Regions from separate parts of the Homo sapiens genome. Here region 1 is linked to region 2. The links come from fine-mapping of genetic effects on gene expression. A gene starts in region 2. The other region holds a variant in brackets. All regions are shown on one strand. Distances are from middle to middle.

Region 1 (12,647 bases), 45 kb after region 2:
GCTGAAGTGCAGTGGCACCATCTCAGCTCACTGCAACCTCCACCTCCCAGGTTCAAGCAATTCTCTTACCTCAGCCTCCCAAGTAGCTAGGACTACAGGCGCGTGCCACCACGCCCAGCTAATTTTTGTATTTTTATTAAAGACGGAGTTTCACCATGTTGGCCAGGTTGGTCTCAAACTCCTTAACTCAGGTAATCCACCTACCTTGGCCTCCCAAAGTGCTGGGATTACAGGTGTGACCCACTATGCCCAGCCATTTTTCTTCCATTTTTAAGAAGTTGTTTTGATATTTAAAATCAATGTGCTGGAATGCTATGTATTAAATCCTCTTTAAACAAGTAAAATGTTTGTGCACTCTTACAGTGGCAGCTGAATCCATCAGGAGCTTATGGTCTTGAACAAAATGAGCCTGAAAGGAGAGAAAGTAAGTATTTATGTATTGAGGTGAACTTTGTTGCTGAGGAGAAAGGATATACAGTGAATTTTAATGATCAGGTGATGAAAATTGTGTTAATAGATGGAGCATATTATTTTTGAAGGTTAGATTTTTGCCATTCAATTTGTTCATAAATATTTGTGGGTCTACCATATGCTAGGTGCTATGGAAAGTGCCGATTAATAATTACTCCTATAGAATCTACAGGTTAATACAAATAATTATGCACAAATTGACTTTATAAATTAAATGCATATGAAACAGTAAACAGCAATGCTCTTCTATAACAAAACAAAAGCTTATTGGGGAGTGAGAAAGGAAAAATATGTATAATTAGTACAGATGGATTGGGACCAAATGATGAGGATATATACATTCTTCTAGAGTAAACCCACATTTGCCCAGATTGGAAATGTTCTGGTAACTTGAATAATCTGATTAACTAAGAATCATCACAGCTACCATAATGAATTACTAGTCTTTAAAGCTTTATTATTCGTATACTACTACAGATATTTTGAATGTAATATAATCTTTGAGAAGTCTTACAATTCTTTAGGCACATAATTTTAGATATGAGTGCTATATAATATTATTCTAAAATAGTAACTATAGGCCAGGTGTGGTCACTCACGCCTATAATCCCAGCACTTTGGGAGGCCAAGGCAGGGGGATCACTTGAAATCAGGAGTTCGAGATCAGCTTGGCCAACATGGTGAAACCTCGTCTCCACTAAAAATACAAAAAATAGCCAGGTATCATGGCACATGCCTGTAATCCCAGCTACTTGGGAGTTTGAGGCAGGAGAATCACTTGAATCCAGGAGGTGGAGTTTGCAGTGAGCCGAGATAGCGCCACTGCACTCCAGCCTGGGCGACAGGGCAAAACTCTGTCTCTAAAAATAAAAATAAAACAGTAACTATATTATCGAATTATTTGGATTTGAAGTAAATGGAAGTTTTCTGTAAGTTTTCTTGATAATAACAATTTTTTAACCTTGAAAAATCAAGAAGTATAAAGGTCTTAGAATAATTTTTCTGTGAATATATTGATTTTCAGTGTTCTGAATTAGCTTTATTTGATTCAAATAGAAAATGTATTGTTTGCAATTTGGAAAAAAGTACATATCCACTGCATCTTTCTTTTTAAAAATTTATTAGCAAAAAAGGCTGTATCTATCTATCTATCTATCTATCTATCTATCTATCTATCTATCGGTCTGTCTCTCTGTCTATCTATACATCTGATTAAATAATGTACACTCAATGACAGTGTTTGAAGGGGCCAATGAATAATTTCCTATGTTAGGGAAAGGATACAAAAAGCACGAATCATAAAAAGGTTAATTTATCTATGCTACAATGAAGAATATCTGTTCATTAAAATATATTACTAGGCCAGGTGCAGTGGCTCACACCTGTAATCCCAGTGCTTTGGAAGGCTGAGGTGGGTGAATTGCTTGAGCCCAGGAGTTTGAAACCAGGCTAGGCAACATGGCAAAACCCTCTCTCTACAAAAAATACAAAAATTAGCCAATTGTGGTGGCACATGCCTGTGGTCCCAGCTACTCAGGAGGCTGAGGTGGAAGGATCTCTTAAGCATGAAGAGGTTGAGGCTGCAGTGATCCATGCTTGTACCACTCTACTCCAACCTTGGCAACAGAGTGAGACCCTGCCTTAAAAAAAAAAAAAAAAAAGATATCACTACAAGAGTGCAAAGGCAAGCCATGGAATATGAGAAGATACTTGCCACTTATAATCAACAAAGGGCTTGTATCTAGGATTTATTATTCCTAGATTACTAAGGAAAAGGAAGACATGCTGTGGTTAAAGCCCCAAGATTGGAAGGAGGGGACAAAAGGAAGGCTTCTGGTTTGCTGGCAATGTTTTATTTATTGACCCAGATGATGGTTACATATGTTTGCTTTGTGACAGTTCAACTGAACAGTTAAGTTTATGTTTATGCATTTTTGAACAAGTGTTTGATCTCAGTAAGCAATACCCCATTTCCTTTTTAATTATATGATAGTTTTACTGATATGTAATTCATCTATCATAAATTTGCTTCTTTAGTAGATTCACGAAGTTGTACAGGCATCACTACAACATAATTTCAGAACATTTTCATTATCTGAGAAAGAAGTCTCATGCCTATTTGCAGTCACTCCCCATTCTTCACTCCCCCTAGCCCTAGGCAACCACTCTTTCAGTTTTTATGGATTAGTCTATTCTGGCCATTTCATATAAATGGAATCATACAGTATGTAATTCCTTTCCAATTTTTGATTCAGTTGAGAAATAGACACCAGAATCAACAGATGAAAGTTACAACACCAGCTTTGTTGTTAGACTGGGGCTTGACTTTTGGGTAAATCAGTCTGTCTAACTCAGAGGGGGACTTGCTGCTGGATACTCTCTCAGTGCCAGTAGCAGGGACAAACAGAGAAGGAAGGCAGGCAGTGTGACTGACAACTCTCAAGTGCCCTTCCACTCCATGCAAATGGAACCCAGGTAACCCATAACAAGCATTCTTTTTAAAGAGTCATGGAGCTTTCAAGAAAATAAGAGAAATATTCTCCTAAGAACAAAATAGAGATAAGAAGGCATTTTGCTAGAATCTGAGGAGCAATAGTAAGCGAACACAATAGCCAGAGCTATCCTGGGGACAAATGTCCATATAAGCTGGGATCTGAGATCAGGTCTGGGTCTGCTGCAAGGTGAGTGAACTGAACTTAGTTCACCCAATCAACACATGAAAAGATGATTAAACTTATTAGTAGTCAGAGAAATGCAAATTAACATTGCACGGAAGTAGCTTTTTTTTTGCTTTTTTTTTTTTTTTTTTTTTTTTTTATGACGGAGTCTCACTCTGTCGCCCAGTCTGGAGTGCAGTGGCGTGATCCTGGCTCACTGCAACCTCCACCTCCCAGGTTCAAGAGATTCTCCTGCCTTAGCCTCCCAAGTATCTGGGATTACAGGCATGCACCACCATGCCCAGCTAATTTTGTATTTTTAGTAGAGACGAGGTTTCACCACGTTGGCTAGGCTAGTCTCAAACTCTGGACCTCAGGTGATCTGCCCGCCTTGGCCTCCGAAAGTGCTGGGATTACCGGCATGAGCCACCACGCCTGGCCTGAAATAGCATTTTTTATAAGCGTATGCCCTAGAGAAACTCTTGCATATTGTATAAGAGTCAGAGAGACAAAGAATTTGTTGCTATATTGTTTTTAAAAGCAAAAACTGGAAATAACACAAATGTTTGTTTTGGGTGGTTAGATAAAAATATTATGGTGTATTCCCACAATGGACTACCATATAGCAGTGAAAACAAATGAACTAGAGCTACATTCTTCAACATGGATGAATCTTAGAAATATAAATGTTGAATTTAACAAAGCAAACTACAGAATTATGATACCATTTCTGTATAAAGTTCAAAAAGACATACCATATATTGGTTAAATGTGGTAGGCCAGGCATGGTGCTCACACCTATAATCCCAGCATATTGGGAGACTGAAGCGGGCCAATTGCTTGAGCCCAGGAGTTCAAGACCAGCCTGGGCATCACAGCAAAACTCCATCTCTACAAAAGATACAAAAAATTAGTTTGGCATGGTGGCCTGTGCCTGTAGTCCCAGCTACCGCAGAGGCTGACATAGGAGGATCACCTGAGCCCAGGAGGTTGAGGATGCAGTGAGCTGAGATCACACCACTGCACTCCAGCCTGGGTAACAGACTGAGACAGACCCTGTCTCAAAAAATATATAAATAAATAAATAAAATATACTTTAATATATAGTATATACAGTAAAGTTATTGTTAAGAAGCAATCGATTGATAAACACAAAAATCAAGATAGGAGTTGCCTCTGAGTGGGGTGAAAGGGGATGGGACGAGAGAGGGAGCGCACGGGAATTGATAATGTTCTAGTTGTTGGATTCGGCAGTATGTTTTGTTTTTTTTCCATCTCCCCCCAACACACATAATGTAGTTTTATTCAGTTTTAAACAAACTGTAACTCTTTTGGGGCAGTAAGTTCATGAGTGTTCATTTTATTGTTAGGCTTTAGAACTCCCATCTGTATTATGTATGTATTATTATATATTACATAATACATTATATATAGAGAGAGAGAATGTTTCAAATATTACATGATATGATGAGAACAAGAAAGAGAGAGGGGTGGCTTTCCAGATCTACCTCTGGAAGGCAAGTCTGAGCCCTGGCCCAGGTGTCCTTAGGACAAGGAAACAGCAGGGCAGAACATACAGGCTCAGGGCAGGAAATCCCTCAAAAGATGGGAAGAAAGGGGCAGAAAGAAGCTTTTGCAGGTGATAGATATGTTCATTGTCTTGACTGTGGGGATAGTTTCATGAATGTGTACTTATGTCAGAAATCATGAAACTGGACTAAGCAAAATGGCTCCTTCCTGTGATCCCATCATTTTGGGAGGCTGAGGTGGGAGGATTGCTTGAGGCCAAGAGTTCAAGACCAGTTTGGGTAACAGACTGAGAACCCCATCTCTACAAATATTACAAATCAAAAAGTAAATTAAAAAAATTCATCAAGCTATACACTTTATGTTTAGTTTATTGCATACTTTAAACATGTATCATTTATTGTACAAATAAAGCTATTAAACACAAAAGCCAGGAAGAGGTTGAAGCCATACTCTTTTCCCAGCCTGCCCAGTCAGATAAGTCCGTCTTCCTTCCAGTCCCCAGATTCTCCCTACCCCACACACAGTCCCCTTCTCCCTTAGGAGGTACATTTTATTTCTTCCAGTCTAGTAATAGGACGTCCCCCCACCAAAAACATAAAACAAAAAGTTTTATGAATTACTTGCCGTACACTGTTGAGTGAATTCAGTTTTTGGTTTTTTTTTTTTTTGAGACAGGGTCTCGCTGTGTCACCCAGGCTGGAATGCAGTGGCACAGTCATGGCTCACTGCAGACTTGGCCTCTCTGGGCTCAAACAGTCCTCCCACCTCAGGCTCCTGAGTAGCTGGGATTACAGGTGTGCGCCACAACACCTGTTTAAAAAAAAAAAATTTTTTTTGTAGAGATGGGGTCTCCCTATGCTGCCCAAGCTGGTCTTGAACTCTTGGGATCAAGTTATCCTCCCTCCTCAGCCTCCAAAAGTGTTAAAATTACAGACGTGAGCCATTGCACCCGGCCAATGTGAATCCAGTTTTTAAAAGCCAGATTCTGTATTGCCTGAGAGTAAGTTATCTAGATTGGATTCTCTACAATTGAGAATTTGAAGATAAAATAAAGTGAAAGTTCCTTTAACTTAAGCATTGTTTTGCTCTTACAACATGTAAGGCTGAAACAAGTGCCCATGGGTTTGAAATGAAGCTGTCCTGACCTAGCGTTATTCTCAATGCTAGATGGTGTGTTGAGACCTGTCCCACAGAAGGAAGAGCAGCACCAGGACAAGAAGCTGCGCCTCGGAATCCACTAAGAAGGCCTGTCTACACTGCAGGGGAACCTCAAGAACTTTTCATTGCACTTCTAAAATTCAGCCTTGTTCATTCAGAAAATAAGGATGGATTTTGTGAATAATTGAAAAGATTTTTTAAGGAAGCTAATTTATTTCTAGGATACAAATGGTGTTAATAAGAATATTTGTCTTTTAGATTTATGTGTGGGTTTTCCATAATGTAGTAGTGTGTTATTTTATTACACGAAATGAGGGAGCAATAACTTCAACCAATGTAATCACCAACAGGGACTGATTTCTATTTATCTTGACTTTATATTAGCCAATTTGAAAGGGTCTGCTTCACAAGAGGTCATGCCTCTGCAGGGAATCACACACCTTTTGAGAAATATTAATTCTTTTGAATTACAAGAGTGACAGTTAGTAAACTGCTCCAGGGAAATAAGTGTCATCTTTTAAGAGTCAGTGTATAGCAAACCAAAAGATCACATTTATACCCAAAGCTTTCTAGTAATCAGAATTTACTTAATTAGAATTGACTCATAAAAATAAAGTTAGTGGACTTTGTCTCCATTTTTAAAGTATATTTTGTAAATGTTAATTCTGTGGTCCTGTTTATCACAGACTTTGGGTAGCAATAGGAAGAGAGTGTTATTCTGAGACAGTGTCGCTGCTTGATATCACTGACTCTTGAAATCACTAACAGTGAACCTCAAATTTGGTTATGATGTTAACAGAGAAGAAATATTTGAGTCTGGAATATTGAAACTAGCTTTCCTAGAATTCCATTAATAAATGCTGCTCCCCCATATAGTCTTCCCTTCTGTATAATTAACATAGGTTGTCTCATGGCTTTGATCTTCAAAAGGAAGAGCCTTTTAAAAACATTTGCCAACCTCAAGAATAAATACTGAAAGTCTTGAAAGTATGGTCATTTCAGCTATTCCAGATTGCTGTCTGTGATTTCTCACATTTTTATTTGCTGAGAAACATTCAGAAAATTATTCCAAAAATGAAGGTACATTTTCTGTTCTCTCCTAGGTTAGAGAGGGGTGGCCTGGGGTGCTTCATGAGAAATGTCTTCCTGGATCTGCGGTGGTCAGGTTTGCCTCTGCTTTTGTTCCCTGCCTTTCCGCCACATCACACGGCCTCACTGGGCTTCCTACCAGTTTCTCAGAATTACACGCACGACCATCCAAACATTGGCTCCATGCCAGGGCTGTGACTGCAGCCTGTGTAGGACCATGGGGAGTTCAGAGTCATCATACAAGGCAGCCAAGAACTGCCATAAACACTACACAGATGGAGGGCATGGGATAGGACAGGAGAGGAGGTGATGTACACTTAGAGGTAACTAAGGCTAGTTTGAAAACCGTGAATTAAGATATT[C/A]TTATCAGTATAAAAACACTGAGATTGCTTACCTCCCAAATTGCTTTATTGTATTAACTCTCATGCTTCAGCTCTTGGATTTGTTGTTTCTAACTAACATGTCATGTACACCAAACATTTTATAAATCAATCAGTAAATATTTTGTAAGACCCAAAATCCTGGCATATTGCCAGGTCTGTGGATTTGCCTGTTGGGTGTTGGGATGGGATATCAGAGGAAGAAGCATACAAGTGGGAAAAACTGTGATTAGAAAGGGAAAAATAGGCATTTCCACAGTACTATTAAGAGAGGCATGATAATGCCATTTTTTTTCTTCTGTACAACTGGTCAGATTTCAATAAATAATCATTGATGGTTTACTGTGTAGCCTCAGAAGGTGAAGTCTATGAGGGCAGGGAGGTGTGTGTGTGTGTGTGTGTGTACTTTTTAACTGCTGAACCCCAGTGTCTAGAACAGTACCTGGCACACAGTAGGCATTCCATAAATATTTGTTTATTGATTGAATGACTGCTAAACACTGCTAGACTGCGGGGATGAGATGTGTGAGAAATGCCTCCTGATCTTAAGACACTCACAGTCAAGTGGAAGATACAAGCATGGAATCAAGTAATTAAGAAAAATGATTCTCAGGCCAGGTGCCGTGGCTCACACCTGTAATCCCAGCACTTTGGGAGGCTGAGTGGGGTAGATCACTTGAGGTCAGGAGTTCAAGACCAGCCTGGTCAACATGGTAAAACCCCGTCTCTACTAAAAATACAAAAAAAAAAAAAAAAAAAAAAAGCTAGACATGGTATTGCATGCCTGTAATCCCAGCTATTTGGGAGACTGAAGCAGGAGAATCACATGAACCCAGGAGGCAGAGGTTGCAGTGAGCTGAGATCATGCCACTGCACTCCAGCCTGGACAACAGAGCGAGACTTAGTCTAAAAGAAAAGAAAAGAAAAAAATGTCTCTGGACCAGCAGACTATTTGTTAGAAGTGCATATTCTTAGGGTGCTCCCTAGGCTTACTGAATTAGAACCTCTCAGGGTGGGCCCAGCAAGCTGGGGTTTCACGACCTTGCGGGTGATTCTGGTGACCTTTAAGGCTGAGAACTGCCATTGTGGATGTAACTGTAGGAACAGTGGGGGCACACGAGGATTTACCAGCACTCTGGGGAGTCATGGAAAGGACCCTGTAGAGGCAGAGGTGATGAGGTGGGGCCTGAGGGGATCCAGGGGTTTGCCAGGTAAACAGTGGGAATGAGACAAATTTCTGGGAAAAAGTGATGGAGACAGACTGCTGAGCCACCCCAGGAGCCCGCCTGGGTTTGGAGAAGCTCTGTGGGGCACTTTTGACCCAGATCTATAAATTCCCAGTCTTCATCCCTTAGCCTGAGAAATCAGAACTTACACTTAAACAAAAAATACAATGTCTTTCTAAATTTCAAAGAATGGGAGGATGATGGTAAGTTCATAATTTGTAAAAAAAAAAAAAAAAAAAAAAAATAGCTCTGCCATTTGTTTACTGCCTAAGTGGCCACAGAATATGCTACTGTGAGGGGAGCTAAGTGTAAGCATTTGCCTGGCTTCCTTCATCCCAGTCATGCAGAACATACGCAGGTGTGTGTATTTTCATTGTATTGCTGCTGAAGCTTTTTCTTTCCTTTTTCAAGACAGGGTCTCACTCTGTTGCCCAGGCTGGAGTGCAGTGGTGCCTTCATAGCTCACTGCAGCCTTGACTGTTTTCTGTGCTCAAGCGGTCCTCCCCACCTCAGCCTCCCAAGTAGCTGGGACTACAGGCACGTGCCACCACGCCTGGCTAGTTTATTTTTTATTTATTTTTTGTAGAGACAGGGGTCTTGCTATGTTGCCCAGGCTGGTCTTGAACTCCTGGCCTCAAGCAATCCTCCTGCCTCTGCCTCCCAAAGTGCTGTGATTACAGGCATGAGCCACCGCGCCTGGCCAAGTTAGCTTTATTTCTGGGTCAATGAATGGTACCAACACTCTATAAACATGAACTCTATCTTTAGTGACACTATGATACATAAATGAGCTTATCGCCCCTGAATGTCTATATCTAAACCCACGTAACACTTGGGAAGGAGAAAGAAAGAAGTGAGCCCATCTTGGGACAGGAGCTCCTTTGGTGAGTGTAGCACAGAGTGATTTGTTAGGGAAAGCACATGTCTTTCCAGAAGGACATGAGCCAGAACTTTCCTGGAATACTTCCCACCACCCCATGATTCTCAGAAATTGGGGTCCAGGCCAGGATGAACGAGAAAGAAACCACAGTTCATCCCAGTGCTGACACCCGTACCCAGAGAGGCCCGGGCCGGGGATGTATCCCAAGGACAAAAGGTGGAGGGAGGAGGCTGGGGGGAGTTCACTTCCTGTGGAGTGAATGGAAACAGCCTGGCTCTGCCTAATGTGCATGAGGGGCTGGGGGTGGCTTGAACAGCTTGAAGTACCTTGTGTAGTGTGTGCGCACATTCACAATGTTAGAAAAAAACAAAAACAAGAGCTAAGCGAGAAGTCTGAAATACTGTGGTGTATGATGCTGTTGAGTTGCAAGAAATGGAAGCTCGTGAGCCGGGAGGCTTCTGTGTGGCAGATCGTAACTCCTGACCAACTTTGTTTCACCCATGATGATAACCAGCAGAGGTTCTCCAGGTTGTTTATTTTTGAACATGGTACAATTCATTAACAAATATTTGCCAGGGCTTAGCTTACCATGAGCCAGGCACTGTGAGGAGTGCAGTTACAGTGGTGAGGAAAACCAGACACAAACCCTGCCCTCGTGGAGCTTATCGTCTAGTTGGGGAGATGGACATACATCAGTATTCATGAAAATGAATGAAAGGTACACAGAAAAGAACTGGCCTCCCAACAAATACAGGGACATGTTTTTTCAGTTCTTCCACTTCACAGAGATCTGGTACTATTATAATGGCACCATGGGCTGCACTTAGTGGACCCAGAAAGTTCTACTGGTTTGGGTTTTTTAAAAGATATCCTACACGCTTAAGCAGGGAATCTTTTGGAAACCTCTGGAAGAACAATCATATTAAACATGCAAATAGGGCTGGGCACGGTGGCGCACACCAGTAATCCCAGCACTTTGGGAGGCTGAGGCAGGTGGATCATGAGGTCAGGGGTTTGAGACCAGCCTGGCCAACATGGTAAAACCCTGTCTCTACTAAAAATACAAAAAAAAAAAAAAAGAAAGAAAGAAACTAGCCAGGCATGGTGGCGTGGGCCTGTAATCCCAGCTACTCAGCAGGCTGAGGCATGAGAATCACTTGAATCCAGGAGGCGGAGGTTGCAGTGAGCCAATATCGTGTCACTGCACTTCAGCCTGGGCAAAAGAGCAAGACTATATAAAAAAAAAAAAAAAATTGGACCATGACCCTTAACCTCAAGATTCTGTGACTTGTCAGGGTGGAAAAAAATGTATGTAAATAAGTATAGATGTGATAAGCTTTAATAAAGAGCAGGGGAATTTAGAGAAACTGTACCAAGCATTAAATGTATTATTTTTAGTAACCAGAAATTCCTTCTATTGATGTAATTAAGATTTTATAGTGTTTGAGAGGCCAAGGCAGGAGGACCACTTGAAGCCAGGAGTTCAAGACCAGCCTGGGAAACATAGCAAGACCCTGTCTCTCCAAAAAGAAACTAAAAAATTAGCCAGTTGTGGTGGTGCACACCTGTAGTCCCAAGCTGCTAGAGAGGCTGAAGCGGGAGAATCACTTGAGCCTAGGAGTTCAAGGCTGCAGTGAGCTATGCTTGCACCACTGCACTCCAGCCTGGGTGACAGAGTGAGACACTGTTTCAAATAGAAAAAAAACTGCATATAGTACTTTACTCTCAGATATGAGTGTTTCTGTTGACCAGGAATTTTACCATTCCTGGTTCTCTGATGCGGAGGTGGCCTTGTGAAAGGACACAGTTTCTGCTGAGCTGAACACGCTTTAGTGTAATCTGATGAAGAACTTCTATGCTGGTTGCGGTATTGGTGGAAAGTGTTTTATTTTGCAGAAAAAGCACAAATTCCACAGAGGGCAACAGTTATCCATTCACTCCATAGCTATCTATTGCTGCATGACAGACTACCCCCTAAAACTTAGTGGCCCATGCCACTATTTTATTTTGCATGATTCTGTGAGCCAGGAATTTGGGCAAGATTCAGCAGAACAGCTCTACTCCCTGTGGCACTGGCTGGGGTCATGGACGGTTGTGTGCCACTGGTGGGTCAGTTGAGAGGGGGGCCCAGCCGGCACAGGGACAGTGAGGCTGGACCATCCAAGGGGCTTCTTTCAGGTTTCTGGTGCCTCAGCTTGGATGGCTGAAACAGCTGGCAGCTGGCCAGGGCTCTCCAGCAGGGTGGCCAGACCTCTATGAGGTGGCAAGGGCTCTGAAAGTGAATGCTCCACAAGGATGGGCCCAGTGTGTCCCCCTTGCATCATGCTGGCTCATGGATCACTGGCCAAGGCCAGTTTCGTGGCCACACCCAGAGTCCATGTGGAGGGGCCTGCACAGGACATGAAGCCAGGAGGTATAGTTCACAGGGGAACACAAAAGTAACGTTCACTGCAGGGACAGAGCAGATCACTGAAGGGAATGCCACTGGGAATCGAGCCCCATGTCCTGGCCCCTGAGCAGAGTTCTGTCCCCAAGACCATTACTCCTCATGGAACTTTTCACCTCCCTCACACTTACGGCAATGCTAACAGTCACTACACACGGTTCTGAGAACCTTCAAATTGAAGCCCTCATGATGTTTCCTAAGAAGTTGCAGTTGTCCAAATCCACAAACCCAGATTTTAGTTGGCAAGTCTGAGAGGTTCTGGGTAACTGTTTTGCTGCACAAACGTGGGTATTCCTGAAAGTTTAAAGATTCATCTTCAACATGCTAGGGAAAGCCACCATGATAGCTAGTCTAATAATGCCCAGACCATCCCCTCATTGATGAATGGAAGGCTCACATTTTAAGATGAATATGGGCCAGGGAGGTTTCACCTTTCTTGGCTGAGGTTGATGCCAAAGTGATAAACCTTGGTGCTTCCCGCCTCCCTGTTCCCTGGGGATGGGCCAGAATCAGATGCCATCAGGGACCCTGCAGGCAATTCTGAGAATTCCTTTTAAGAAGACACCTGCAGGAAGGGTGAACCGCTTTCTAGCCCTTCTGCAGCCAGCCACTCCCCCTGCCTTTTGATGACACAGGTTCTGCATAAGGTGAGAGGGAGGACAGGGTGACATCCATTTCTTGTAAAAATGCCTCAATGAGAAAAGGGCCACATGCATTTCTTGTAAAAATGCATCAGTGAGAAAAACAACAGCAGCAGCAACAACAGCAAATATTTACTGAATCTCCTAGTATGATCCAAGCCCCCAAATC
Region 2 (12,647 bases):
AGTGTCTTCTGTTGATTTCTTTTTTATTTTTGTTTAGAGATGCTGTCTCACTCTGTTGCCCAGGCTGGCATACAGTGGTGCAATCATAGCTCACTGCAGCCTCAAACTCTTGGGCTCAAGCGATCCTCTCACCTTAGCCTCTGGAGTGGCTGTGGCTACAGGTGCACATTACCACAACTGGCTAATTTTAAAAAGTGTTTTGTAGAGATGGAGTCTCGCTATGTTGCCCAGGCTGGTCTTGAACTCCTGGCCTCAAGTGATTCTCTGGCTTTGGCCTCCCAAAGGGATGGGACTATGGGCACAAGCCACTGCACCCAGCCCTCCTTCTGTTGATTTCTAATGTGTCTAATTAGATAACTTCTATAGGAATGCTGATTCAGAAATACCTGAACCCAGGTGGCCCTACCTGACAGTCCAGAGGTGCCACACAAACAGGGACCCAAAATGAGCTTGGACATTGACTGTGCTGCCCAGGCCCCTCTGCCCACCCCCTCTCAGGCAGGCTTTTGGTAGAGAGTTTGGGAGAACAAGGGAAAGTGGGCTTGCCAGTCCTTCCCACCTCAGGGGAGCACCATTTCCAGGGCTGCCTGAACATTCTTACTCTGCAGCACATTAATCTACGTGGCACCAAGTTTATTTTTCTGAGAAGATTATTTGGGACAATATATGGAAAATCTGAGAAGTCATTTCTCTTTGGCAGCACTGCCCTCCATAACAAAGCACATATTCCTGAAGGGCATCTGGATTTTGTTTCAGGTTTCTTTTTGCTTCCTCAGGGTTTAAGTGCTGCCAGGAATGGCCTTCTAAGAATTGCTTAGCAAACCTTAATCTCCAGACTCAGGGTGGTGGGGATAATCACATTTTTTGCCCGAAATGACCAAATTGAAACCATCCCCACAGGGTTGACAAGAATGGCATGCTGGGTTCTGGACAGAAATATAGTTATAATTAAGAATGAATCAGCCGGGCGCGGTGGCTCACGCCTGTAATCCTAGCACTTTGGGAGGCCAAGGCCGGCAGAGTGCCTGAGCTCAGGAGTTCGAGACCAGCCTAGGCAACACGGTGAAACCCCATCTCTGCTAAAATACAAAAGAAATTAGCTGGGCATGGCAGCATGTGCCTGTAGTCCCAGCTACTCGGGAGGCTGAGGCAGGAGAAATGCTTGAACCTGGGAGGCAGAGGTTGCAGTGAGCCGAGATCGTGCCACTGCACTCCAGCCTGGGGCGACAGAGCAAGACTCCGTATCTACAAAAAAAAAAAGAACTAATCAGACAGGCACGGTAGCTCACACGTCTAATCCCAGCACTTTGGGAGGCCAAGGTGGGTGGATCGCTTGAGTTCAGGAGTTCGAGACCAGCCTGGCCAACACGGTAAAACCTGGTCTCTACTAAAAATACAAAAATTAGCCAGGCTTGGTGGCATGTGTCTGTAATCCTTGCTATTCAGGAGGCAGAGGCATGAGAATCACTTGAACCTAGGAGGCAGAGGTTGCATTGAGCCAGTATTGTGCCACTACACTCCAGCCTACCTGGGCAACAGAATGAGACTCTGTCTTAAAAAAAAAAAAAAAAAGAACTAATCAGGCCACAATTCAGCACACTTCCTTGTTGCCAAAAGTCACTAGATCCTGACCATTTGCATCCCCATTGTTCCTAAAGATAGGATTTCTGACATTAAGATTATAATGATGGAGACAGGAGGCAGAGAAATTCTAGGCAGACAGGGGCAGGTCCCTGGCAAAGTCCCATCCTCAAGCCAAAAAGCCTGAGACTGCAGCCCAAAGTGAGAACTTACATCCCTGTTCTCCCGCTCAAATGTTGCCTTTTCCAAAACCACCCATGGCCCGCCCTGCCCCCTATCCTGTGCTTATAAAAACCCCAGACTCAGCCGGCAAAAAGGAGAAGCAGCTGGACATCAGAGACTATGGCTCAACGTCTGAGAGAAGTGGCTTGACTTCAGAGAGACAGCTTGACAGCATAACTTCAGAGAAGAATCTGGCCAGAGACAGCCGGACTTCAGGGGAAGATTACCTTCCCACCCCATCCCCTTTTCAGCTCCCCTTCCTGCTGAGGGCCACTTTTATCAGCGATAAAATCCTGTTTTTACCATCTTTCAATTCCTTCGTCCAAACTCATTTCTCCTGGATGCCAAACAAGAGCCTAGGAGCCACAAGTGCAGATGCAAAAGGCTGTCACACTGGCCCTTTGCCCTCACTGGTGGAAGACAGCTCCCTCACATGAAAAGGCAGAGGGAGGCTCTGCAGAGCTGCTAACACTTAAGCTGTCTGCAAATGGCAGAGCTAAAAGACCACTGTAACACTCCCTCTGGGGCTTCAGGGGTTGCAGGAACCCCACCAGATACTGCCTTGGGGGCATGCATGGAGTTTGCTCCTGCTGGTGCTCAAAAGTGCTCACCTGGCTCCTGCACCTGCTCACCTGTGTGCTCCCTCCCATAAGGGGTGGAGAGCAGTGAGTCCGAATGAGTGGAGTTCACTCCTGCTGGTGACGAAGTGGCCAGCTGATTCCAGTGGTTGTGTACTCCAGTTCCTGCCTTATTTGCTCATGCGCTCCCTCCCGCAAGGAGTTGAGAGCTGTGGGCTGAGTAAATGGGGCACCCCTATTGCGAGTCCTGCAAAGCGGTCAGGGAAATATCCTACTTCAATAAGACTGTTTAAAAATGGATTTGCATCCCTGTTGTTCCTATAGAGATGATCTCTGACGGAATCATAAGGCTTTTGTTTAAGGATTGCTTAAGATGTTCTCAGATCCAAATTTCAGCGACCAGTTTGGAGACCCTCACAGAAGAACGGGATGAGCATAAGAACACAGCTTCTTCATCTCCCTGTCCCATGACTTCACCCTGTGCTCTTCGACCAGTGAACACTCTCCACACTTGGGCCCACTCCAAAACCCTAAAGACTGTAGCCCCAAACTCCTCAGACAGATGGATTTAAGATTCCCTCCCATCTCCTCCTTTGGTGACCCTATAGGTAAATGCTTTATCTGCTAAAACCCAGTGTCTCTGGCACTGGTCATGGAGTGCCTTCTCACAAGAGCAAAATTGAGTGTAAGGTACATTTTCTTCCACAAGCCAGGTATTCCATAAGCACCACCAGCATCAGCAGATCCAGCTACAGATTCAGTGACTATGATCAACTCCACAGACCATCAGCTTGCTTTGTTGAGAGGATTCTGTCCTAATAAACACACTGCTAAGACTAACATTCCCAATCCACAGGACCTAGAATAAAAGAAAATTCAGGCTACTTAGAGAATAGGTAAATGAAAGATGAAAAAGGGAGGGACAATCAACAGTATTGAGCACCTGTGCTTTGCCAAGCACCATACTACTTGGGATCATGTAGCCCTTCATGAAAATTTGTGATAAATGTTTTACCATCATCCTTTCCTTCCTTCTTTCCCTGGGCTATTCCTTCCTCCCTTCCTTCTTCCCTGAGTAAGTCAGTCAAAAAGGCATTTGATAACCTCCCCTCCCCTCCCCTTCAAGGGAGAAGAGGCTATTACAGCAGAGGAAGAGGAAGGGGCTGGAAAGCCAAAGAAGCAACTAGCATGCTAGGAAGGTGAGTCACATACAGGGGAACTGAGGGTGGAAAAAAGAAAGAAAGGACAGAGGCTGCTCCTTTAGCCTGGATCCCAGAGCCAATTCACAGGAGCAGCAGCATGTAACATGAGTAAAAATTAACCTTTGTGGGGGCAAGCCACTGAGATTTCATGGTCATTTGTGTGAAAGGAAAATGAATCTTGGGGCCCCAAAATCACTAAGCTAAAGGGAAAAGTCAAGCTGGGAACTGCTTAGGACAAACCTGACTCCCTTCTATTCAAGTCATCCCTCTGCTCACTGAGATAAATGTATATCTGATTGCCTCCTTTAGAAAGGGTAATCAGAAGCTCAAAAGAATGCTAGCATTTGTTTCTTATCTACCTAAGACCTGGAAGCCCCCTCCCAACTTCGAGATGTCCCACCTTTCCAGACCAAACCAATGTTCATCTTACATATGTTGATGGATGTTTCATATCTCCCTAAAATGTACAAAACCAAGCTGTGCTCTGACCACCTTGGGCACATGTCGTCAAGACCTCCTGAGGCTGTCACAGGCGCATATCCTTAACTTTGGCAAAATAAACTTTCTAAATTAACTGAGACCCGTCTTAGATTTTGGGGGTTCACATTTGTTACCCACAGCAAGCCGGGTCTAAGCCAACTGATACAGTAACTGGTAAATAACTTCTGTTCTTAGAGTGTGAATACAGCTTGTCTCTCTCATATCAAAGCCCATGGTCCTTCCACTTGATATATAGAATTGTTTATTGATTTAAAAACCATTTTATTGATTAAACTGGCCTTTGTAGAACTCAGCTGCTCTGAGCTTGTCCACTTCTCAGCACTTAGGGAAAATTTCATTTTATAATCCTTTTTAGTCCTCTTATTCCTCTGCAGCAGAACAATTATTCCACCAATACTGTGGAAAAGTTAGCCTAGTCTGAAAAATATTTCAGCTACAAATACCTAAAAATGCAGGATAAAATATGGCTGAGCTAGCAAGAAAGTAAGAGAAATAGTCCAAGTATTTAAACTGCTCTGAAATACTAAAGGACTGAAAATGGAATGAGACCAGGAGTCCAAAGAGAGGTTAATGAGCAATAAAGCTAATGATTGTTTGAAGGGCAGGGCAGATCTAGACTGCTGGGGATTAAAGATACACACACAAACACACATATAACATATATAGGTGTGTATGTATATATATATACATATAGTTATTTTGAGAGTTTAAGACTTAAAGAAAGTTGCAAAAATAATACAGAGTTCCTGTGTTACCCTTCACCCAGCTTCTGCAATAATAATGTCTTACCTATTCACAGCACTTTGGTAAAAGCAGGAAACTGATACTGGTAAAATACTGTTAATACAGGTATAGATCTTATTTGTGTTTTACTAGTTTTGAATGTACCACTTTGCATTTTTGGTGTATAGCTCTATGAATTTTATCACATGTATAGATATGAGTAACTGTCAACACAAAGAAACTCTGTCGTGTTACCTCTTAACAGTCAGACCCTTGTCCCAACCATAACATTTGGCAATCATGGATTTGTTCTTCAATGCTATAATTTTTCTTTGGCTATGAGAATGGTATCTAGATGGAATCATACAGTATACAACACTTTAAGACTGGCTTTTAAAAACTCACCACAATGCCCTTGAGATTCATTCAAGTTGTACGTATCAATAGCTCATTACTTTTTATGGCTGAGTAGTGTCCCATGGCATGGATATACTCCAGTTTGCTTTCTATTCATTCACTAAGGACTGTTTGGCTTGTTTACAGTTTTTTTGTTTTTTTGTTTTTGAGATGGAGTCTCACTCTGTCGCCCAGGCTGGAGTGCAGTGGTGCAATCTTGGCTCACTGCAACCTCTGCCTCCCGGGTTCAAGTGATTCTCCTGCCTAAGCCTCCTGAGTAGGTGGGACTACAGGTACATGCCACCACGCCTGGCTAATTTTTTGTATTTTTAGTAGAGACGGGGTTTCGCCATGTTGCCCAGGCTGATCTCAAACTCCTGACCTCATGATCCGCCCGCCTTGGCCTCCCAAAGTGCTGGGATTACAGGTGTGAGCCACCATGCCTGGCCTGTTTTCAGTTTTTGACTATTAAAAATAAAGCCACCATGACATTCATGTACAGAGTTTTGTTTGAACATAAGTTTTGGTTTGTCTAGGATAAATACCCAGGAGTGTGATTGCTGGGTGATATGATAAGCATATGTGCAACTTTATAAGAAACTGTCAAACTGTTTTCTAGAGTGGTTATGCCATTTTATAGTCCTACCAGCAATGTTTGAGAGATCCGGTTGCTCTGCATCCTCACTAGCATTTAGTGCTGTCAGTACTTGTTATTTTAGCCATTTAAATAGGTGTGTAGTAGAATCTCATTGTGGTTTTAATATACATTTCCCTAATGGCCAATGACACTGAACACTGTTTTACATGTTTATTTGCCATCTGTATATCTTCTTTGGTGAAATGACTATTCAAGTCTTTGATCCATTTTCTAACTGGACTGTTTACTTACTCTGAGTTTATATGGTTCTTTATATATTCTGGATATGAGTCCTTTGTTGGATACATGCTTTGCAAATATTTTCTCCTAGTCCATGGCCTGTCTTTAAACCTTAGTGTTAATTGCCATGAAGGCACTGTCAACAAAGTCTACACTTCAGGAAAGGTGCAGAATGGAGTTCTCTGGATATAGTCAAATCACCTGAAGAGCTTTACCCTCAGAACAGGCGAACTAGAAAAAATTCTACAAGCCAAAGAAATAAATAGCAAGCTGAAAGATAGATCTGAAGAAATTAGCCAGAATGTGGCTCAGAGAAACAAAATGATGCAATATTTTAAAAATAATAATTTAGAACCTCAGAAGGTTTAACCTATGCCTAATAGGAATTCCAGGAGGAGAGTCTAGAGTAATGTTGTCCAATACAGTAGTAGCCAATAGCCACATGTCACTACTTAAAATGTAAATTAATTAAAACTAAATGAAGTTAAAAATGCAGTTCCTTGGTTGTACTGGCCACATTTCAGATGCTCAATAGCCACATGTGGCTGGTGGCTACCATATTGGACAGTGCAGATATAGAATACTACAGGAAATCCTACTGGACAGTGCTGATCTAGGTCATAAAACAAGTCTGAACAAATTTCAAAGAACTGGTATGATACAGATGTTTTGTGGAAATAAACTAGACATTAGAAATTAAAAACAAAATAACTCCTACTGCCTCCTCTCACCTTTTTCCCCATTACAATTCCACCTCTTAATGTCTTCATGTTCTTGATGAGAAGCAGAACGTCCCTACTGTGTTCCATGGCACCAAGTTCCCCAGAACCCGCCAGTCTCTGATGACAGAACATCCTGGACCGCCCAGCTCCACACCCCAACCCAAGAAGTTCTCTAAAACACTGACCATGACAGCCTGGGGTAGGTTTCCACTTTAACATTCTGACCAAAATTCTCAACTCGATGCAGTCAGAGTCTGCGCAACCTGGGACCTCGAGCCAAGAAATCCTCAAGTGACCTTACTTGGCAAAACCAACAAAACAACCAAATACAGGTCTCAAGCGATTTACAGCTCGGTGCTTAACTCGGTCACCGGCCGAGGGGCAGCCCTCTGGCGCCAAAGCCCCGCCTCTCTATGACGTCACACGAGGAGCCCTGAAGTGGCGGTCAAGCTTGAGGCGTCATCTGGCTGCGCCTAGTGGGCCGTTGCCTTACAGTTGCTGAGAGGAGGCGAGAGGCGGGGGCGCTAGGGCCGAGATCATGTCTGACTGGGAGAGGTTTCCTTGGCAGCAGAGGACGCTAGGTTTGGGATGAAAGAAGCTGGGCAGATGCAAAATCTGGAGAGCGCGAGGGCCGGGCGGTCAGTCAGCACCCAGACTGGCAGCATGACCGGTGAGTGTCCGGGACCCTGCTCCCGCCACCCTACCTTTCGCTCTGCCCTGTGCGTCTCCCGTCATTGAACTCCAGATTCCTTGTCTGAGCCTCTTTGCCTCCCCTGCTGCTTTTGGATGTCTCCTGCCCGCCCTCTGCGTGTCCCCTCCGCGGTCGCCAGGACCAATCGGCTCGGTCGCACTGGCTTTTGAAGTCTCGCTTTTTACCCCTGTTAGCTACTTCTCACAGGACCTAGAGCTGGGGCCTCTGAGGTCAAAGAGCCTGAACATTTCCAAACGGCGCTTTTGCCTTGATTTCCAAATTAACCGCACGTGACGCTTTCCTGTATTTCGACTGCTTTACCGTCGAAGGTCAGCGCATTTTTCGGGTTGTGTTCTAATCGCTTTCCTTTTAGCAACGCCCCATCACAGTCCAAAGAAAAGCTTGCACCACGACGACGTCAGATGCGAAGACTTTTCACAGCTTGCTTTGGGTTGTCCCCCTCAGCTATGTGTATTAGCTGTACCGTTTTTTCCTGCAGGGTGAGGGCTGGAGAAAGAAGGCTCAACTTTTTAAGTGGAGAAGGAGGTAGCCACGACTAAGGCTGAAGCGTCTACTGCTAAGATACCTCTGACTCTCTTGTCCCCTATCTTTTTCTGTGCCTCTTGCGAAAGCAGCTGGGCTTAGGCTGCAGCACCTAAGTGGCATTGAGATTGGCTCCCTTTTTCACCATTAGTAACAAAGTTTAAAGTGTTTGTCGTCTCTTTTGTAGGTCAGATACCAAGGCTTTCTAAAGTCAACCTTTTCACTCTGCTCAGCCTCTGGATGGAGCTCTTTCCAGCAGAAGCCCAGCGGCAAAAATCTCAGGTATAATTTGTTTCATAGTTTTTCCCCTTAGAAAAGCAGTGGTTTAAAATCTGAGTTTATTGCTCCAGTTTCTGTCATACCTAAAACCAAACTTAACAAGGCTTAAGATTTAAAAAATATCTTTATTGATTAACATGACACTTTATAATTCCCAGCCGTAATAAGTCATCTTCCATTCTAAAAATACTTTCTGAGAATACCATGTTTATCGGGTACTAATGGTATTCATATGTCAGTTCGGCTAATAAGATTATTGTCTATACCACATAATTTCCCCCAATTATATATACTGTTGGTGTTTTATCTAGGTAGTTTACTCCTCTGCCACAGAAATATATAAATTGCCTGGAGATAGAGACCATGTCTTATTTTACCTAGCATATACCCTTTAGAGTCTAGCATTATATGAGTGCTAATTGATTAATGTTGGATGGAAGTAGTCTCTTTTTGGATCTTGAAAGACAGGATCAAAACAGATTAGAAATGGGCTGTGTGCAGTGGCTCACGCCTGTAATCCTAGCACTTTGTGAGGCTGAGGTGGGTGGATCACCTGAGGTCAGGAGTTCAAAACCAGCCTGGGCAACATAGTGAAACCCCATCTCTATTAAACATACAAAAATTAGCCAGGAGTGGTGGTATCCGCCTGTAGTCCCAGTTACGCGGGAGGCTGAGGCATGAGAATCGCTTGAACGAATCGTTGGAGGTTACAGTGAGCTGAGATTGCACCACTGCACTCCAGCCTGGGTGACAGAGCAAGACTCCATCTCAAAAAAAAAATCAGAAATGTATAGTAAGAATAATCATAAAAGCCAATATATTGGAATTGGAAGTATAAACATCCTGCGTCTTTTCTTTCTCCTACCCTTGGGGCAACAAGGGGCTAGGTTCTCATTTTCCTCCATGCTTGGAATGGCATGATGCTAGGTTCTCATCATTTCTGTTTGATAATTTTGGAAGCTTAGGGTGTTGGCATTAATTTTTATAGGGGGCCACGGCCATTGGAAAATAGTATTAGGTTAAGTTGAGCATTTAAGACTTTTTTTAAAACAGAGGTAAAATGAGGGGGGTGGGGCAGAAAATTACACATGGCTTCTCACCACTCTAACAACATTACTGTTAATATTTTGGTGCTTCCAATCTTAAGCATGAGGTTTTTTATTTTTACTCTTACAAAGTTGTAGTTATATTCTGCATGTACTCGCTGAGGTTTCCAACTTGCCCATAATTCTGCTGAAAGGTTGCTTTAGATTTTCCAGAGAAAGACTATAAATCCTTAAATTCCCACAGTACTCTTAGGAGACCACCTACTCTTTTCATTTTACTGTGGATGAGGTTTTGTGCTTGGCACTGGAGACACAAAGCAGAAAAAACATGGTCTTTATTTTCTAATGAGTAGAAACACTAGGCATTTAAACAATTAAAACAGAATTGGTGGAGTGAGTACATAGTATAAGCAGAGATGTTGGCAAGACTGGGAGCCAGGCTCTATATGGGGAAGTGAAGGAAGGATTCACAGAGAAGGTCGTATTTGCACTGAGACATGAAGGATTAGTGGACTTTTGCCCAAGCCAAGGAACTCTACATGGAAAAGCTTGGAGCAATGAGAGAATTTGTGGTCCTCAGGCCAGAAAGTGAAGTTAGGTAGAGGGAAGAGACTGGAAAGGAGCTTGACAATGTAGACAGGAATCATATCATAAAAAGCATTGTATGCCTTGCAAAGGAGTTTAGATTTTATCTTATCAATATAGGAATTGCATTGAGGAATTTTAACAGGATGTGAGGATATTCGCTTCTCATAATAAAATGATATCTCTTGGTGTAGTTTCCTCCCCCAATTCCTATGTGAAGTGTTTTATAGATAGTAAAACATTATTTAAAATATTATACATCGTTATTCCATATTTCTCACCCTCATCCCCCCACTCTGGCTCTACATGTTATTAACGGCTGAGAAAGCTCTTCATTTCCTTCATTAATTTTGAAATTCCTTTATTCCTTCTACTTGTTAATAGTTTAGTATTATTTTATGAAAGTAGATTTCCAAGCTGTTAGGGATTTTATGTAGTGTTGTGTTTTTTTTGTTTTGTTTTGTTTTGTTTTCAGATAAAATTTATTTTGAAGAGCCAGATTAGAAACAAATATTTAGAGGTTTAAGACTTTTAGGCCGGGTGCAGTGGCTCATGCCTGTAATCCCAGCACTTTGGGAGGCCGAGGCAGGCAGATCACAAGGTCAAGAGATCGAGACCATCTTGGCCAACATGGTGAAACCCCGTCTCTGCCAAAAATACAAAAAGTAGCTGGGCGTGGTGGTGCGTGCCTGTAGTCCCAGCTACTTAGGAGGCTGAGGCAGGAGAAACACTTGAACCCAGGAGGCAGAGATTGCATTGAGCTGAGATCACGCCACTGCACTCCAGCCTGGCGACAGAAAAAAAAAGAAAAAAAAAAGAAAAAAAAACGTATAAAAACTGGACATATTAGAGATTGAATACAAATTTTGAAAAGGCGTTCTTTTTTTTGTAAATATCCAGATGTGATCTCGTTTTAGTTCTGTTTTTTTATATACACACCACATCCTGTGCTGAAATTAAGTTTTTTTTTTCAACAGGCACAAGTTGTATTTAATTAGTGAGAAATGACATTTATGTTTCTATTAGGAAGGAATTGATTGGCCAACTAATTGTTGAAGTTTATTTGCAAATAATACACACCCTACTGTTTCCTCATACTATATAGAGAAAGCTGTGGATCTGAGAAAACTGAGATGAAGCTTTCAGTTAGCATTTTGTTAAAAAAAATACTACCAAGGAAATTTCAAAACTATATTAGCAACAAAATTTTATACAACTTTATATCATGTTTAACAAAAGATCAAGGTTATGACTCTCATTTTCTCCCAAGCCAACAACTCTTAAGTTTTCCTGGCATCTCATTCCTTCATCTGGTGGGCACCATGGAAGTTTTCTAAATGAAAATAAATAAGTCTTTTGTTTCAGATATTTTATTTGGGATCTTATTTAGAAATCTGACTCATACGCATGTCTATTTAAGGCTTTTAAATGGAAAGTTATAACACATAGAAATGAGTACAGAAGGCATCAAAACAAAGAACATCCATGTCTTCAGAAAGCCAGGCAACCTGGAACTAGGATTGACTTGGCTATATGAAAGGTTATCACTCTTAGCTCCTGGTCCTGGAGCATGCCCAGCTCCTATTCACTGCATTGGTGTCTTTCCAGCTGTGCTCCCATACCCATGTGTCCTAGGACTACAACCCTCTCACCATGGTCTTGGGTAGGCCTTTACTTCTGTTCTTACCTACAGGGCTTGGGACTCCAAGGCACTTGGGGAGGGAGAGCCTCAGGATTACTCTGGCAGTGATCTGGGTGAAAGAGGCTTTTGCATGTTAACTTGGGAACTTGACTATCATTTTTAACATTGTTTATATGAGAAAAATGTGTTTTAAATTCCGAAAAGGGAGATTTACCAAGTATTTAGAACATGATTGTAGGTTGTCAATTACTTGTATATTTAATGTCAATAAAGCAGAAGTATATAATTTCATTAGTTCTTCTGATATCATGGCCATTGCAAAAAAGCAAGACCAATGATAGTGTGGGGGAAGAATACAGAATGAAAGGGAGCATATTGTACTCCACTTTTATAGTGTTATTTATTGTACAAACATTATCATTGAAACTGAATTTATAGCTGCAACATTTTTAAAAACTATTTTTTTCTCTTGGATTTCCTTTTTGTACTAGTTAATATCCACATAATTTTGCAGGTAGTTGCAGTCATAGCAGGAACACAATTTTGTATTTGACAGTTTTGGTACTGTTACAGGGTTGATAAGTTATTAATTTTAAATTATACAGTAAGAATACATCTAAATTTCATATGCATGTAGTATATGCTGCCATTGTGTTTATACTTGTGGAAATATTAAATTTCTCAAAATGTTGCCCAATTTTGTGCCTAATATTTCTTTACCATTTACTATAGTATATTTTTTCCAGTATTATTTGCACATGGTATTCTTAGAGTTGAGTACAAACTTTTTCCAATTAAGAGAAAAAAAGTCTTCTTTAAGCTAAAGTAATAAGATTGTTTCACTTAAATTCTTTAGTCTGCTTTTGTTGTACAGAGTAAATCACAGAAATACCAAGATGCAATTAGACATGTAATTGTATTGGAAATACTGCTTTTGATACTTTACCAACATTTGTCTTACTAAAAGTATTTTTATGAGTTACCAAAGTAATATATGTTTGTTATTTTTAAAATGGACAGAAGAAAAATTTTATCATAATTCCACCTCCTAGAGACTAA

Which allele goes with the higher level. Positions count from the first base shown, and alleles are read on the strand shown. Sizes are in standard deviations (SD) of each study's normalised expression.
For the expression in adrenal gland of the gene that starts at base 7,278 in region 2, C is the low allele of the variant in region 1 and A is the other (large effect, 0.83 SD a copy in GTEx).

The links. PIP is the estimated chance that this variant, and not a neighbour inherited with it, causes the effect.
Region 1: its variant is fine-mapped to the expression of CDADC1 in adrenal gland (GTEx, PIP above 0.99). The same link has a PIP of 0.9 or more in thyroid.

The regions. Positions count from the first base shown.
Region 1 is chr13:49,285,859-49,298,505 of GRCh38, forward strand. CDADC1 (cytidine and dCMP deaminase domain containing 1) reads left to right here. Exons shown (of 10, transcript NM_030911.4): 9 at 364-424; 10 at 5,826-7,627. The coding sequence ends at 5,899. Among named protein-coding and RNA genes, the nearest start is that of CDADC1, 44 kb to the left of the region's middle. The variant C/A (reference allele first, on the strand shown) is at 7,268.
Region 2 is chr13:49,240,648-49,253,294 of GRCh38, forward strand. It overlaps CDADC1 (cytidine and dCMP deaminase domain containing 1), which reads left to right and starts at 7,278. Exons shown (of 10, transcript NM_030911.4): 1 at 7,278-7,472; 2 at 8,224-8,318. The coding sequence starts at 7,391. It overlaps LOC105370203 (a long non-coding RNA gene), which reads right to left and starts at 7,193. Exons shown (of 2, transcript NR_135318.1): 1 at 6,988-7,193. RefSeq lists enhancers at 7,139-7,701, 7,171-7,400.